2 separate regions of the Homo sapiens genome follow, and region 1 is linked to region 2. A link means that fine-mapping ties the variant in region 2 to the expression of a gene that starts in the linked region. Tissue or cell type: nucleus accumbens. Region 2 holds a variant in brackets; the other region holds the start of a gene. All regions are shown on one strand. Distances are from middle to middle.

Region 1 (9,500 bases), 35 kb before region 2:
TCCAAATCCTAAGAATCCTCTCTCCTTTTTATCTCTTAACCCACCCTTCCTAATACCACAGCCTTGGCACTTTTCCTTTTTTCTTTTTTCCCCTTAATCCCATGACAGATTATGCACTTTTTTTTTTCAGTATTTATTTTAGATTGAGGAGGTACATGTGCACATTTGTCACCAGGGTACATTGCATGATACTGAAGACTGGGGTACAAATGATTCATTCATGCAGGTATTGAGCATAGTACCCAATAGTTACTTTTTCAATCCCTGTCCCCTTCCTCCCTCTCTCCTTTAGCAGTCCCCAGTTTCTATTGTTGACATATTTATTTCCATGAGTACCTGATGTTTAGCTCCTGCTTATAAGTGAGAACATGCAGTATTTGGTTTTCTGTTCCTGCATTAATTTGCTTAGGATAATGGCCTCCAGCTGCATCCATGTTGCTGCAAAGGACATGATTTCACTCTTTTTTATGGTTTATGCACTTTATTTTTCATCTGAATTCCTTCAATAGTCCCCTAACATCTCTGTGCCTCCAGTCAAAGCACTGTAACCTGGTGGTTAGGAGCCTCAGCTCTGACGTCAAATTTCCACGGTTGAGATCCAAGCTGTGACCCTTATAAAATGCTTGGCACTGTATCTGAGACATAAGTACTTAATAAATGAAGTTTAGCTGTCATTATTATTATCATTATTATTCACATTAGTGATCTTCCTAAAGCCCAAATCTGATCTGATCTGATCTCTTCATTAGGTAAAGCCTTTCAGTGACTCCCCATCACCTCTTTACCTTGGCATACAGGAGCCCCCATGATCTGAGACTTGCCCTCTCTCCAGCCTCATCTCTCACTGCACCCCACCTTTCACTCCATTCTGTAGTCCCTAGATGCACTCTGCACATTATCCCTGTACCGTGGACCTGATTATCCTCAAGACTTAGCTCTAAAGTCACTGTAGCCCTTCTCCAGGCCTCGTTGTGAAGGATACACCTTCTCTGCCACAAGAGTCAGGAGTATCTCCCTGATAACTCTCACCACAAGCTTGCTTGTCTGTCTCACATTCACTCATTCCACACATATGTTTTTGAGTGGCACACATGTGCTGTGAACTAGGCTGGCTACTGAGGATACAGATAAAGCCTTATCCAAGCTTGAGGTATTCACAGTTTTGGTGGGGAAGCCCAGGTAAACGGCTCACTGTAACTCAGGGTGGCAAGTGATAGAATAACGAGTTATGGGAACACGTGAGAGGGAGTGATTCCGCATGTGGGTTTCAGGGATGCTTTCACAGAGAAGACAACAGTTAAGCCAAAGTTCAAGAATGAGTTCAAGTTTACCATGCAGACAAGAGGGGACTGGAATTCCAAGTTCCAAAAGGAAGCCAAATTAAGTCTGTGGTGGAGGGGACAGTGGGGAGTCTCTCCTTTAGCAAGATAACCTCCTCTTAGTGCCTTCGTTTCTCTGTCAGCTTGCGTAGCACTTGAAATGAGTTTTGCTTGTCTCGCTACCCACCCCCCACCCAACATACACACAAGTGAGCCACTCTGCTCCTGCCACACTGTCAACTTGGCTGTCAGTTGGTGAGCCATGCCCTGTGTTCAGATCAGGCCATGCTCATCTCTTCTCTGTCTGGCAGCTCCTTCTCTATTTAGAAAATGGCTCTTTAATTTCTGTTTTGGTTTTTTGGTTTTTGGCTAATTTTTTATTAAAGACTTATAATTGTTTTGAGCCGTTTTGGGTTCACAGCAAAATTGAGACGAACCCTATTATCAGTGTCCCCCACCAGAGTGGTAATTTGTTACAATTAATGAACCTCCATTGACACATCATTGTCACATTATCAGGGTTCACTCTTGGTGTTGTGCATTTTATGGATTTAGACAAAGGTATAGTGACATGTATCTACCATTATAGTATCATACAGAGTAGTTTCACTGCCCCTAAAATTCTCTGTACTCTGACTGTTTATCCCTCCTTTTGCTTATTTCTGAAGGCCCCAACTCACTTGTCACTGCTTCATGAAACTCTCCCCAACCCTCATCCCACCCTGAACAGAATTATTCGCTTCCCTCTCTGGGTCCCTGTTATCTTCTGGCTCAATTACAGCACTTATGACATTAGCCAACCACTGTTACCACTATCCCCAGGCCTGGTTGTGAATTCCTTGAAGGCAGAACCCTGCCTGTGTTCTTTCATACCTTCTGTGTTGGAGCACAAAGGCTAGCACAAGGCATCACAGCTAGTTGTCAGTCATTACTTGAATGAATCAATCAATAATATTTTTAAAAATTCCTTGTTTACGGATGAGTTTAGGTCCTTTGCAGGGACATGGATGAAGCCGGAAACCATCATTCTCAGCAAACTAATACAGGAACAGAAAACCAAACACTGCATATTCTCACTCATAAGTGAGAGTTGAACAGTGAGAACACATGGACACAGGGAGGGAAACATCACACAGCAGTGCCCGTCGGAGTGTAGGGGGCTAGGGGAGGGATAGATAGCATTAGGAGAAATACCTAATGTAGATGACGGGTTGATGGGTGCAGCAAACCACCATGACACATGTGTACCTATGTAACAAACCTACACATTCTGCCCATGTATCCCAAAACTTAAAGTATAATTTTTAAAAATTCATTTTTTACTCTAAAATAATTTTCGTCAAGATTCCAAAATAAACATCAGCTTTGCTTTGCTTAAATAAATCCTGAGTGATGCATGTAATATTTTCAATTCAAGATTTGATAAATGGATATTAAATATACACCCAAAGGAAAATCTCCTTCTGAGCAGGGCCTGATTGCAAATAGGAAGAAAAAGATGTAGTCCGGTCCCATTCAGTTTAGCATTTTTACCTGACGACTTCACACACATTGCAGTCTGAAGCCAGAAAGCCTACGCAGAGTAAAATGAAGAGTCTTTAGCAAAATCCTTTGTGTTTAACACAAACTTTGATTCCTCAGCATCTGTACAGTTCAGAGTAATATGTACTGTTTAAAAGGTGTTTAGATATAACAAATTAGTCATTTAAAAGTGTAATTAAATGTAACCACATTCCTCATAGCAAATTGGCTTTTGTAGGCATCTCTTGCTAAATAAATCAAGCCTACTGAGAAATCCATTGGCCTTTGACAGACAAATTTTTCAAAGTTTCTAACTTAGAACCAAATTCAATTAAAACAATACTTTACAACTTCTGTGGAAACCAGGCTACAATCAATCAATTTTGGAGAGTTTCTGTTAGGAGTAGCCCTCGTGAGATTTATTCAAAAACTGGGCTCTCGGCAGCCTTTGGAAGGGCACTAGGAGTTAGTTATAATGAATTTTAAGTGAATTTTATCTTGGTGAGGGATTTTGATTGACAATAGCATAAAGCCATGTTGTGTGTGTGTGTGTGTGTTTTCTTTTTTTAAGGAACAGGAACAGCTATCAATGGACACTGCTTCATGGGATGCCCAAACAAATATAAACTCTAGATCAGTCAACCTGGGCTCAAATTCCAGCTCTGCCATTTATGGACATGATCATCTTTGAAATGGAAATAATAAAAGAACCTTCCTAATATTGGCATTATGCAAATCGAATGAGTACATGAAATGCATGTGCCTGGTGCTTAGCAGAGTAAGCTCACACTGACTGTCAACTGCTGTTTCCCCAAGGTTATTCTCCTCAAAGGGCCACTTGAGTGATCAGAACAGAATTTCTAGGACATTTTCCCTTTTTATGACGACTGAGACCTGAAAGAGTAAGCAGAGATTCTGTAGTGTTTGTTTTGATGTGAGTTTAACCATCAGCATACAGACTGACTCCCTCAGATCCTTCCAAATAAACTCCTTCATTATCTCATTATTTCAATATTTCATTTCACTGTCTCTCCTCAAATGTAGATTCAAGAAAAGTAGGTTTATTGTGCAGCTACCCTGTGAGCAGATGCCCCAAAGCTGTCATTCCTTCAGGTTAATAATTAACATAACCTGAACGGGGGCATGGTGGCACAGGTCTGTATTCCCAGCTAATTGGGAGGCTAAGGCAGGAGGATTTTAGCCCAGGAATTCAAGGCCAGTGTGGGTAACACAATGAGACCCCATCTCTTAAAAAAAAAAAAAAGAATTCCCATACCTAATATCAAGCACATAAGTCTCTTTAGCTTACAAAAAAGAAAAGAAAAGCTCATTGCATGCATCCATCAACATGGCATGTTGCAGAGCATAATATTCGGAGAATAACGAGGCAAAATACACTTAATAAAACTGCAGGCATATGGTGAGGTTCTCAGACAAGTTATTTATGGTCTTGATTAACCTTGCAACATTATCGCCATTTTCATAGGTTTTACATAACAACATAAAAATATTATCTTTACCTTTTAACATGGCAGGATTATCTTATCTCCGGTTCTTTTATTTAGCCTTCATTTCGCTCCCTCACCCCAAAATCTCTAGCAGCTTGATCATGGAAAAGCAAAGCTGCTTGTGCTCCGTGGTAGTTAATTATATATGAATACTGTTTTCCTGGCACTAGCACATAGCAACAGCGCCACCAAAAGGCCGAGGTCCTGAGTTTCTGGGATCTGTTCCATTTCTTTGCTCCACAGCATATCAGCGTTTTTGCATGATATTCCTGGTTGCTGTGTATTCAAAATATAATATATTGGCATTTCAGACTCCTTATAATTAATAGGTTTTAATTTGTTCTGATCTACAGATTCATTAACTTCTCAGCTCTCTTTGGGTAGAATGAGTTTTCTTTTAATCCTCCTGAACTAAAAAGGTATGCAGTTGATTGTGCTAAGCTGCAGATAAATCATATGAGCAGATGTTCTTATACAACTATAGAAATGATATACGAAAACTGATATTAGAGTCAGTGTAATAGTGACAATAGAGACAGTATCTGTACTGTCAGGAGGAAATATTGAAATGTGCAAGTTGTTCTGTGTTTAGTGACTATGAAAGTCACCCCAGGAAATAAACTTTTCTTATTCTCAGAGTACTGTCTATTACATTTTATGATTGTCCCAAATTTAGTAACGTGGCAAAACTGATTTTTTAAATTGTAAATACATAGTGACATGTCATGAGAATGAAAACAATGAAATTAATTTATGGTAAGGAGATAGTCATATATATTTCAAATAAATGTATTTCTTCAGGGTCACTTTTTTTTCCTGCCACAAACAGAACTGATTTTGTCATTTTGTTATTCAAAAACTTAAATAGTCACCACTCTAGATGCACTCTCGAGCTGGAATAAACACTACAGACTAGTGGTTGAGAGGGTAAGCTGTGGACTCAGACTGCCTGGGTTCACATTCTAGCTCCACTCTTTCCTGGCAGGCACGATCCTGGGTTAATACCCAGTGTCAATTTCCTCTTCTGTTGAATGTAGTTGTTCATCCTATTTATTTCATAGAATTGCTCTGAGGATCAAATAAGATCATATCTACCAAGAATTAGCATAAGTACTCAATAAATGTCAATCGCCGCTATTATGATGATGGTCGTAGTTCATTGTAGATACTGGTTGTCATCCCTTTGCATCTACTTACGATATTCTCTAGGTATGACTGAATGCCAAAATCAAAACAAATTCTATATTATTTCATTGGTGCTTTCACAGGATGCTACCTACCTAGAAATAGGTTTACTGCTACATATGTTTATAAGCATATTGTAGGGGAGGAAAAATATCTTTTTCTCACCCACCCTGGATTCATCGCCAAGGCCTCTGTTGCAACAAAAGACAGATTAGCAAAAGAAAAACATACAAATTTATTTCATGTAAGTTTTCCATGATACAGGAGTCTTTATAAGGAAATGAAGAACTGAACAAACAGTGAAACTTGAATATTTTTACTCCAGGTTTGATGAAGAGAGGAAAGTGGTGGAGAAATATGATTGGGCAAAGGAGATATGAGCTAATGGAAATAAACGAAGAAAATCAGCAAGGCTTTTGTTCAGATTCTTCTCTGTGTCCCTGTGTCTTCAGAGATAAGGATGTTCCTTTCTTCAGGGGATAGGGACGGCATCTCTCAAATGAGTATCTTATGACCTGCTCCAGGGGGTGTTCAGAAAATCCTAGCTATGTTTTATGACCAGCTGCAGGGGAGAACAGGAGAAGGTGAGAGTGACCTTCCTGCTACTGTAAATGCCATGTCCTGAACTCCATCAATATCCATTTGTAGGTGAGGATGTCTAGCCTCAGACAGCTAGTTGTTCACCTTTCTATGTGTTCGTGTCAGCAGTTTTTATTTGAAAAGTTTCCATTGGTTACTTTTTTGTTTTCTAACACTTAAAAATCACTATGAGCAAAGATGGAAAGGGATCAGTCTGTATAGTCTTTTTTTTTTTTATTATACTTTAAGTTTTAGGGTACATGTGCACATTGTGCAGGTTAGTTACATATGTATACATGTGCCATGCTGGTGCACTACACCCACTAACACGTCATCTAGCATTAGGTATATCTCCTGATGCTATCCCTTCCCCCTCCCACCACCCCACAACAGTCCCCAGAGTGTGATATTCCCCTTCCTGTGTCCATGTGATCTCATTGTTCAGTTCCCACCTATGAGTGAGAATATGCGGTGTTTGGTTTTTTTTGTTTGTTTGTTTGTTTGTTTGTTTTTTCATGATTTTTTTTTATTATACTTTAAGTTTTACGGTACATGTGCACATTGTGCAGGTTAGTTACATATGTATACATGTGCCATGCTGATGTGCTGCACCCACTAACTCCTCATCTAGCATTAGGTATATCTCCCAATGCTATCCTTCCCCCCTCCCCCCACCCCACAACAGTCCCCAGAGTATGATATTCCCCTTCCTGTGTCCATGTGATCTCATTGTTCAATTCCCACCTATGAGTGAGAATATGCGGTGTTTGGTTTTTTGTTCTTGCGATAGTTTACTGAGAATGATGATTTCCAATTTCATCCATGTCCCTACAAAGGACATGAACTCTTCATTTTTTATGGCTGCATAGTATTCCATGGTGTATATGTGCCACATTTTCTTAATCCAGTCTATCATTGTTGGACATTTGGGTTGGTTCCAAGTCTTTGCTATTGTGAATAATGCCGCAATAAACATACGTGTGCATGTGTCTTTATAGCAGCATGATTTATAGTCCTTTGGGTATATACCCAGTAATGGGATGGCTGGGTCAAATGGTATTTCTAGTTCTAGATCCCTGAGGAATCGCCACACTGACTTCCACAGTGGTTGAACTAGTTTACAGTCCCAGCAACAGTGTAAAAGTGTTCCTATTTCTCCACATCCTCTCCAGCACCTGTTGTTTCCTGACTTTTTAATGATTGCCATTCTAACTGGTGTGAGATGGTATCTCATAGTGGTTTTGATTTGCATTTCTCTGATGGCCAGTGATGATGAGCATTTTTTCATGTGTTTTTTGGCTGCATAAATGTCTTCTTTTGAGAAGTGTCTGTTCATGTCCTTTGCCCACTTTTTGATGGGGTTGTTTGTTTTTTTCTTGTGAATTTGTTTGTGTTCATTGTAGATTCTGGATATTAGCCCTTTGTCAGATGAGTAGGTTGCAAAAATTTTCTCCCATTTTGTAGGTTGCCTGTTCACTCTGATGGTAGTTTCTTTTGCTGTGCAGAAGCTCTTTAGTTTAACTAGATCCCATTTGTCAATTTTGTCTTTTGTTGCCATTGCTTTTGTTGTTTTGTACATGAAGTCCTTGCCCATGCCTATGTCCTGAATGGTAATGCCTAGGTTTTCTTCTAGGGTTTTTATGGTTTTAGGTCTAACGTTTAAATCTTTAATCCATCTTGAATTGATTTTTATATAAGGTGTAAGGAAGGGATCCAGTTTCAGCTTTCTACATATGGCTAGCCAGTTTTCCCAGCACCATTTATTAAATAGGGAATCCTTTCCCCATTGCTTGTTTTTCTCAGGTTTGTCAAAGATCAGATAATTGTAGATATGTGGCGTTATTTCTGAGGGCTCTATTCTGTTCCATTGATCTATATCTCTGTTTTGGTACCAGTACCATGCTGTTTTGGTTACTGTAGCCTTGTAGTATAGTTTGAAGTCAGGTAGTGTGATGGCTCCAGCTTTCTTCTTTTGGCTTAGGATTGACTTGGCGATGCGGGCTCTTTTTTGGTTCCATATGAACTTTAAAGTAGTTTTTTCCAATTCTGTGAAGAAAGTCATTGGTAGCTTGATGGGGATGGCATTGAATCTGTAAATTACCTTGGGCAGTATGGCCATTTTCACGATATTGATTCTTCCTACCCATGAGCATGGAATGTTCTTCCATTTGTTTGTATCTTCTTTTATTTCCTTGAGCAGTGGTTTGTAGTTCTCCCTGAAGAGGTCCTTCACATCCCTTGTAAGTTGGATTCCTAGGTATTTTCTTCTCTTTGAAGCAATTGTGAATGGGAGTTCACTCATGATTTGGCTCTCTGTTTGTCTGTTGTTGGTGTATCAGAATGCTTGTGATTTTTGTACATTGATTTTGTATCCTGAGACTTTGCTGAAGTTGCTTATCAGCTTAAGGAGATTTTGGGCTGAGACAATGGGGTTTTCTAGATATACAATCATGTCGTCTGCAAACAGGGACAATTTGACTTCCTCTTTTCCTAATTGAATACCCTTTATTTCCTTCTCCTGCCTCATTGCCCTGGCCAGAACTTCCAACACTATGTTGAATAGGAGTGGTGAGAGAGGGCATCCCTGTCTTGTGCCAGTTTTCAAAGGGAATGCTTCCAGTTTTTTCCCATTCAGTATGATATTGGCTGTGGGTTTGTCATAGATAGCTCTTATTATTTTGAAATATGTCCCATCAATACCTAATTTATTCAGAGTTCTTAGCATGAAGGGTTGTTGAATTTTGTCAAAGGCTTTTTCTGCATCTATTGAGATAATCATGTGGTTTTTGTCTTTGGCTCTGTTTATATGCTGGATTACATTTATTGATTTGCGTATATTGAACCAGCCTTGCATCCCAGGGATGAAGCCCACTTGATCATGGTGGATAAGCTTTTTGATGTGCTGCTGGATTCGTTTTGCCAGTATTTTATTGAGGATTTTTGCATCAATGTTCATCAAGGATATTGGTCTAAAATTCTCTTTTTTGGCTGTGTCTCTGCCCGGCTTTGGTATCAGGATGATGCTGGCCTCATAAAATGAGTTAGGGAGGATTCCCTCTTTTTCTATTGATTGGAATAGTTTCAGAAGGAATGGTACCCGTTCCTCCTTGTACCTCTGGTAGAATTCGGCTGTGAATCCATCTGGTCCTGGACTCTTTTTGGTTGGTAAGCTATTGATTATTGCCACAATTTCAGATCCTGTTATTGGTCTATTCAGAGATTCAACTTCTTCCTGGTTTAGTCTTGGGAGAGTGTATGTGTTGAGGAATTTATCCATTTCTTCTAGATTTTCTAGTTTATTTGCGTAGAGGTGTTTGTAGTATTCTCTGATGGTAGTTTGTATTTCTGTGGGATCGGTGGTGATATCCCCTTTATCATTTTTTATTGT
Region 2 (9,500 bases):
AAACCTGAGATCTGGCCTGGTCTGATCTCAATACTACGATAAAATGAAAGTCTCAGCTTAAGTAAAATCACAGTATTGCTTTCAATTAAACAGTGACATTTATGGTAATGAAACTACATTTTTTGTTGAGGGGCAGCTCATCTCTAAACTACCAAAAGAATATCTTTTCCTTGACACCTTAGTAAGGGTTGAGGGTAGGGGGTGAGAATCTATACATTGGCCACTAACATTGAAAGAAAATTACATTATGATCAGTGTTTTAACTTGGTGAAGGATGCACTTTGTTTTTTTTGCCATCTGCCCTCTTCCAACCTTTTCAACAACACTCCTATTGAAACCTGAAACTGCCTTCATTTTGGAAATACTACTAATTCACATTAAAAGTCCAGAAAAATTTTAGTTTCTTTTGCTGGAATAACAGAAGAAATGGAAGCAAACAAAAACAACCAGCCATGTGACATTCTCTAAATTTGCTTGTGAATTTCTAAATTTCAGTGCTAGCAAAAAAGAAAGTTGCAGCAAGGCATACAGTAAATGAAGATATTATGTATTAGGAAAGGAATGAATCTGTCACTTTGACGGATTGTGAGGCGAAGAGTAGATTAACAGATTACTCATAGTCAGAAGGCAGCTTGGTGTGAAAAATGTGTAGGAAATGATAAGTGCAGGTTTGTGCTGATTTAATGATATTTTTAAACTACAATAACACTCTGGTAGTATAATATAATAAAGCACTTGGCTTACATTTTTGTAAATCATCAACATATTTCCAGTTTGACCTTAAAAACATTTTGGGCCATTCTCTATTAAAATATGTAGCTTTCAAATTAGAAAAAGGTACCATCTATTATAAAATACCACAGCAGTGCCCTTACAGGAAACATCATTGGCTTTTAAAATCAGTTCTTCTCTAAACTAGCATTTGTAATATACATTTTAATTACATTTTTAGCATACCAACACCACATGTACTTTTTCTTCAAGCATTTAAATCACTTACAACAAGAATTTATCTTCTAACAGCCATTTCCAGTGAAATGCTTCAAAGATGCCACTGATTTGTCTTTATATTTTCATTGTCAGTTTTTAGTTTTGTAGTTGAACTCATGGAGTATTTATAAATAAAACAACTATATTTTGTCACAGATACTAGATAAAAGTAGTTCAAATTTCAATTGAGTACTCTGAGAGTCTCTGCAAGAAATAAGATGAATTACTTATTTTATTTTGTATTATTACAAATATTTATCAGAAAGTAAAAGTTTTTAAGAGGTTTATATTTTTATATAAGTAAAATAGAGATTTTAATAGCACACTTGTAGTTAATTTGACAGTGATGGACTTGCCTTGCCAAGGATTTTCAGAATAAAATTCCTATGAAGCATTGAAATAGTTTTTATTCTAATATCTTAATATTCAAAACCTAATGTAAGGCTTGGGTTGTTTAGTATTCTCTTCTCCCAATTCACCAATAATGGCTTTACTTAAGTAGGTACAATGAAACTCGGAGTAAAATACTGCATTTACCATCTAAACATTTGTATCTAGCCCAAACGCAAATAAATATACTACTTTGGCATGTCCAGGGCTTGAATCCCAGACATGATTATGATTCAAGTTATATTTTACATATACAGTGAAGAACTTTACCAGAATTCAGCATGTTTTCTAGATTTCCTCTCTTCTAACGTTCTCTCAACTTGGGGTAAATAAACAATGAGAATAGTCTATATTCTTGGTAGAAATTCTGAAATATATGTAGCAAAAGTTGTTTGCATGTTTTCTGACATCCTTGAAGATTTATTGTCTATAGTAGTTACTGACACTGTTCCCCAAATATTCCCAGCTCTCCAGATTCCAAGTACATGGTTGTATTGCACTTCTAGGTTTCCTTGTTTGGGGGTGGAGCCAACTAACCCAACTAATTCTAGCCAACTAATTAGGAGCATAAGGGCCTACGTTATTTCTTGGCAAGAACATTTACATTGTAGGTGTGAAACCTTCCAGATTATCTTTTCCTCTGACACTGTGACCAGAAACATTCAAGATGATGGTGGTTCAGTCAACCCAGTCACTTAATGACTGTGACAAACAGAGTCCCTATAATGATCTGTTATAAAAACTTAACATGAGCAAGAAATTAACATTTGTTGTTTTTAAGTCACTGAGATTTGAGGGTTTTTTGTTATCAAGCATAACATACCCTTATTCTGACTGACACAGTTGCTAACTGTGACATTGAATATACATTGTCATTGGAAATACAGCATTTCATATATTTTCATATTTGAATGTTAAAAATTGGTTAAACTATTCACTCAGTATGAGATTAATTGGCATATAGTAGAATAAGGGGTTTCATGAGGTGGTATAATGCACTAGTTTAAAAAACTGTCTCTAGAATCAAAAGGTTGGGTTTATATCCTTATGACATTAGTTAACCTCTCCAAGCCCCAATTAAGTTATCTAAAAATAGGAATTGTATTTTACTACCCACCATAAAGTGTTATTGCAAAGATTAAATGAAATAATACTCATAACATGTTTTGCATAGGGCCTGGCATATATATTTTTATTAAATGGTAGAAAGTGATGATAGTATTGGTAGGGATATTAATAGTAATATTAGGAATAATTTTTCAAAAAAAATCATACTTTAACAGAATCAGAGAATCTTAAAGGGTTTGATGAGATCAGGGAGATGATTTAACCCAGCATCTCTTCAAACTTTACACATCTCTGCCAGGGAAGCAGGCTCAGTGCAGCAGAAGACAGCCCATTCCATTATTGGGCAACTCCAACCATGGGAAATCTTCCTTATACTGAGCTGATGTAGGCTTCTCTATAGCTTCTTCCCATTGATCCTAGTTCTGTTTCCAGAACAATAAGTAGAACCATCACTTTTCATAAAATACCTCTTGAATTTTTTAATATCACTTCTGGGTTGCTCTGTTTTCTCCTCTAGTCTCACATTTTCTCACTCCAGTCCCAACTCCATTTTGCCATTCCTGGTCCTGGCATAGTCCTAATCACCGTCCTTTGGATACCTTTTAATTTATCAAATTGGAATTCTCTAAAATGAACACAATAATCTAGATGTAATCCAAAGAGTTCAGACTACAGTTACACCATTGACTAGTATAGTACATTGCTTAAATCACATTCATAGTTTTAGTTCCCATATCCCACTAATGTCTTACATTTGGCTTTTGGTCACCTAAAAAATCACCATCTTTCTCCTGGACTATTGCTATAGCCTTCTAAGTAGCCTCCATGGATCCACATGTCCTTTTCACCACTACTCCTCTCCTTCTCTGCTGCTCTTCTGCTCTTCTGTTCATCTGCTCATGGAACCTGGGGTTTGAGGTTTATATGGGTACATGATAGGGGACATGGCAGGCCAAATGGCAACTTTTGGGCGAGAAAACAGGAATGCCTGTTCCCATTTAGGGCCACAGGTTTCCAGGCTTGAGAGTGGGGCCTTTGCCAGGGAACCACCCTCTTCTACCCATTATTTCCCTGTCTCCGGTCCATATCAAAGATATACAACTGAGAATAAATACATATTGTATGATTCCATTCATATGGAATTCAAAAACAGACAAACTGAGCCATGGGTATTAGAAGTCACCAGGCTCACTTGTAGGGAGAAGAGAGTGTAATAATTAGAAGAAGGAGGAAGGGACGCTTTTACCTCTTGACCCAGGTGGGGATTATGGCTCACTGTGGGATCATTCATTGAGCCATACAGCTATGATTTGTGCATTTTTCTCTGTTTACATTACACATCAATATTAATAAGAATAATTAGTATAATTGTTAATAAGGATAATTGGTATAATTCTTAGTCTAAAATAGTTTGCTTTTTCTAATATTTTAACATTTCTGTATCTTTCTACCTTTTTTATAATTTATGTAAGCTTTCTGTAGAATGAGACTATATTTAAGTGGAATAGCAGCTCAGTAACACCATGAATAATTATGATGATGGTAGCCTGGTGATTTGAGTAAATTATTTCCTTCCTGGGAAGCCTAATTTACTCACAATAATGGTCCAATCAACAAAAGAGTTTTTATTATTTCCTCCCAATGTTTTTAAAATAGCATTTTACCATCATCTGTTCAAAAATCCATTTATCACCCATATCAGTGTTTAATCACAATATTTTTCATTAACTGAAGTGTTACAATTAACACACCCTGAAAATGCTGGGAAATAAATCTAGTCAACTAAAGATCCTGTCAACTTGCTCCAGTTCCTTATTTTCTCATGCAACCAGCCAACACTGGGGGAAATTGAATTGTCATTCACCTCACAGAGCCTTTTTAGCATATCATTGTTTTATTTGAC[T/C]TCTGAACAGAAAGGTATAACCAAACTTTGAAAAGAAAATGGAAATCAGTACATAAATAAGGTATCTGATAATCTGACACAATAATGAAAATGATACCCTGTAGTTATTCTTTACAAAAGCCCAGAGAGCTAAATTAAAGCACTAAATTAAATCCCACCTACTCTTTCTGCACCATTAAGTCCCATCATTCCACAGAAAGATTTGGATGGTTTTATTTTGTATTCTAATTTTAAGGCAATTATTCTCTCGTTAAAGTTAGAAAAGGCTGCAAAGTTTTTTGCTCTTGATTTGCTAATGACTTAGTTACAAAGCATTTAACCTACAGTTGCCTTATAACTCTCTAAAAGGTGTTATATAAAGTTGCTTGGGATTGAACTTTTTTCTGTAATTTTAAACAATAATAACTACTAATGCTATTACTGTGTGGTGAGTTTTATACTGTGTGCCACTGTGTGGAATTGATACATTTTATGTTACAGTTGACCCTTGAACAACATGGGTTTGAACTATATGGGTTCCCTTACAAATTATGACACAGATTTTTTCCAACCCATTTTTCATATATGTGGGTTCTGCATGGCCAACTTGAGGATTTTGGTATATGTGGGGAGGGGGAACTGAAACCTAATCCCCACTCCTACTGAGGGATGACTAGTTTATTTAATCCCTGCTACAACCCAGTAGGGTCAGTTCTCTTATTCCCATATTCCAGATGTGGAAACAAGAGACACAGAGTTTGGCTCAAAGGTCACAAGGCTAAAAGGAAGTTTAAGCTGAGATTAAAAACTGTGCAATTTATATACTAGATTAGTGCCCTAAATGTGTGTCTAATATACAGTTCCACATTGGATTGTCAAAGTGTTTTCCACTGTGGTGGTGGTAGTCATTGCTGTTGCTACAATCCCAGCCTAGCCATGTGTTCATCCAGACATGCAGCACGGGAATATGTTAGCATCCCATTTTGTGACCAGCCACGTCTTGCTGAGATTTAGGAAAGTCGTGCTAGAAGTTGAGGTGATAAACTAAAGGTAAGAAATTTTTCTCGTTGATTCCCCATTTGCTCCCCATTACTTCTCATACAGCGCTGTCCACATTAGAAGCTCAAAAATGTCTGTGGATTCTCACCAATAGGATTTCCCCGGTAACCGTGGTTTAAATGTGAATTTAATTTGTTCATCTGAGGGGCCCATTATATTAGAAACATCCATCTCCAATAGACGGCCCCAAATCAACCATGCTGTGGTTCCCTTTCTCACTGCGTGCTCAGAATCTGTCTGTATGCAGTGAGTTGGAGTTTTGTTTTGTTTTGCTTTGTTTTTTAGTGTTTTCTTCCTCTTTTTTTTTTTTAAATTGTACTTTAAGTTCTGGGACAAATGTGCAGAACATGCAGGTTTGTTATATATGTATAGGTATACACATGCCATGGTGGTTTGCTGCACCTATCAACCCATCATCTACATTAGGTGTTTCTCCTAATGCTATCCCTCCCCTAGCACCCCACCCCCCAACAGGCCCCAGTGTGTGATGTTCCCCTCCCTGTGTCTGTGTGTTCTCATTGTTCAACTCCCACTTATGAGTGAGAACATGCAGTGTTTGGTTTCCTGTTTGTGTGTTAATTTGCTGAGAATGATGGTGTCCGGCTTCATCCATGTCCCTGCAAAGGACATGAACTCATCCGTTTTTATGGCTGCATAGTATTTCATGGTGTATACATGCCACATTTTCTTAATCCATTCTATCATTGATGGGCATTTGAGTTGGTTCCAAGTCTTTGCTATTGTAAATAGTGCTGCAATAAACATGCATGTGCATCTTTATAGTAGAATGATTTATAATCCTTTGGGTATATACTCGGTAATGGGATTGCTGGGTCAAATGGTATTTCTGGTTCTAGATCCTTGAGGAATCGCCACACTGTCCTCCACCATGGTTGAACTAATTAACACAATGAATTGGAGTTTTTTGTTTGTTTGTTTGTTGGTTTTTTAATTTATTCTTTTTTATTATACTTTAAGTTTTAGGGTACATGTGCACATTGTGCAGGTTAGTTACATACGTATACATGTGCCATGCTGGTGTGCTGCACCCACTAACTCGTCATCTAGCATTAGGTATATCTCCCAATGCTATCCCTCCCCCCTCCCCCCACCCCACAACAGTCCCCAGAGTGTGATGTTCCCCTTCCTGTGTCCATGTGATCTCATTGTTCAATTCCCACCTATGAGTGAGAATATGCAGTGTTTGGTTTTTTGTTCTTGCGATAGTTTACTGAGAATGATGAATTGGAGTTTTTATGAAATCTTGTATCAGCGTTACTCTGTGCTAGAGCTGTTAATAAGAAATACTCATCAAATCTTTTTATTTTTAAAATTACTTTTATATAAAATTACTTTTATATTTTTATAGCACTGTTTTCTATCTGAAATAATATTCTTTCTTTGTATATTTACAGTAATGCCCCCCCTTATCTACAGGGGGTACATTCCAAGACTCCAGTGGATGTCTAAAACGACAGATAGTGCCAAACCCTATATATGCTATATTTTTTTCTATATATGCATACCTATGATAAAGTTAATTTATAAATTGACACAGTAAGATATTAACAAGAATAATAATAAAATAGAACAATTATAGTAATATACTGTTCATAACTTCACAGATTTATTCTTACCATAGATCTTAGCAACCTCAGTATATGATTTTTTTCTTTCCTTATTAAGTCGGGAACTTTTGCGGTTTTTACTTAAAGGAAACACTTTGAAGCTTCTCTTTGGCATATCTTAATTGCCAACATCACTATTCTTGCTCTTTGGGGCCATTATTTAGTAAAATAAGAGTTACTTGAACACAAGCACTGTGATACTATCACGGACGATCTGATAATGGAGACGGCTACTAAGAAACTAATGGGTGTGGATACACCAGAAAAGGGATTCAGGTCTGGGACAAGACAGACAGGGACAGCACAAGATTTCACAAATTCAGAACAGTACTTGATTTAAAATTTATGAATTGTTTATTGCTGAAATTTTCCATTTAATATTTTTGGACCATGATTGACCTCAGGTAGCTAAAACCACAGAAAATAAAACCAAGGACAAGGAGGGACTACTGTATTTACTGTCTGCCTCCATCTCTGGATTGTAAGCTCCATGGGAGCAGAGACTCTGTGTTTTTGATACCACTCTTGTGAATACCTAGAACACAAATATAAAGTGGGATAGAGCAGGCATTCAAGTAATTTTCTTAATGTTTTCAAAGATATCACCACGGAGGAAATATAATTTTCTACAACCTCCATGAGTTGTTAGTTGGGATGGACCCTGTAATAAAAGAAGGATTAGCAAGAGAAAAACGAGTTTATTAACATTTGCAGCACACATCCTGTGGGAGAAACCTCAATGAAAAGTAACTCAAAGCAGTGGCTTAGAACTCTGGCTTACGTAACATCTTTCACAAAGAACAGTACATTTGTGGAGAAACAACAGGACAAATGTAAGCAGTTTTTGGCTTTCAAGGGCCAGAAACTGTGAGAAGGTAAATATATGGGAGGAAACCAATGGAGTGAGGTTTCCTTGCAGATTCCTCTGTGGCCATCTCTGAGCTCCTAAAAGTCTAGAGTTGTCTCCAGTAAAGGAGACTTGATATCCTGTCTTTAGGCAGATAAGAGGGAAAGTAGAGAGAGTTTTTCCTGTGTTTGCTTCTTCTTAATTGCCTTTGGCTCGAAAACAATTTTTAGGTCACGGAAGCATATTTTGGGGGACATATTTTGGTTTCCTTCCATATGAAGCAAACCCGTTATGGGAGGGAGGCAGTTACTTCCCCTACATCTTCAATGATGCTGTGTTTATCAGAGATGAGGTCTTCATTCTATGTGTATCCTTCTGGTGGGTAAAAAGATAGTTTTTTTTCTGTTTTAAACCGATACATAATATTTTACATTTATGGAGTACATATGATCTTTTGTTACATGTATGGAATGTGTGATGACCAAGACAGAATATTTGGGGTATCCATCTTGAATATTTATCATTTCTGTGTGTTGGTATCATTTCAAGTCCTCCCTTCTAGCTACTTTGACATATACATTTTTGCTAAATATAGTTACCTTACTCTGCTATCAAACTTTGGAATTTATACCTTCTATCTAATTGTATGTTTATACCCATTAACAAACCTGTCTTCATCCCCGCTCCTACCCACACAGCCTTCCCAGCCTCCGGTATCTATCATTCTACTCTCTACCTCCATGAGATCCACTTTTTGAACTCTCACATATGAGTGAGAACATGAGGTATTTGTCTTTCTGTGCTTGGTTTATTTCACTTAACATAACGACCTCTGGTCCCACCCATGTTGCTGCAAAGACAATAATAGTATTCAGCCATAAAAGAGAACAATAGTATATTGTGTATGTATACCATATTTTCTTTATCCATTCATTCGTTGATGGACACTTAGGTTGATTCCTTATCTTTGCTATTGTGAATAGTGCCGCAATAAACAGGTAAGTGCAGGTATCCCTTTGATATACTGATTTCTTTTCCTTTGGATAAATACCCAGTCGTGGGATTGCTGGATCGAATGGTAGTTCTGTTTTTAGCTTTTTGAGAAATCTCTCATACTGTTTTCCATAGTGGCTGTACTAATTTACATTACTACCAACAGTTTATAAGACTTCCCTTTTCAGAAAGCTTATATACTTTTGGTGGGAATATAAGTTAGTTCAGCGACTGTGGAAAGCAGTTTGGACATTTCTCAAGAACTTCAAACAGAACTACCATTTGACCCAGCAGTCTCATTACTGGGTATATATCCAAAAGCAAACAAACCATTCTTCCAAAAAGACACATGCGCTGTCATGTTCATCACAGCACTATTCACAATAGCAAATACATGTAGTCAACCTAGGTGTCCATGAACAGTGGACTGAATAAAGAATATTATCTCATTCCTACCTATGGCTTTTATTTTAGATTCAGAGGATACATGTGCAGATTTGTTACGTGGGTATATTGCATGATGCTGAGGTTTGGGGTATGAATGATCCCATTACGCAGGTACTGAGCATAGAACTCAATAGTTTTTTTAACCCTTGCCTCCCTCCCTTCCTTCTACCTATAGTAGTCCCCAGTTTCTATTGTT

The links.
Region 1: it holds the start of CFAP20DC-AS1, and the variant in region 2 is fine-mapped to the expression of CFAP20DC-AS1 in nucleus accumbens (GTEx, PIP above 0.99).

Annotation. Positions count from the first base shown.
Region 1 is chr3:58,819,436-58,828,935 of GRCh38, reverse strand. CFAP20DC-AS1 (CFAP20DC antisense RNA 1) reads right to left here and starts at 4,465. Exons shown (of 3, transcript NR_110820.1): 1 at 4,361-4,465. All of the region lies in intron 14 of CFAP20DC (CFAP20 domain containing), which reads left to right.
Region 2 is chr3:58,784,344-58,793,843 of GRCh38, reverse strand. The region is part of intron 15 of CFAP20DC (CFAP20 domain containing); the gene reads left to right. Among named protein-coding and RNA genes, the nearest start is that of CFAP20DC-AS1, 35 kb to the left of the region's middle. The variant T/C (reference allele first, on the strand shown) is at 4,352.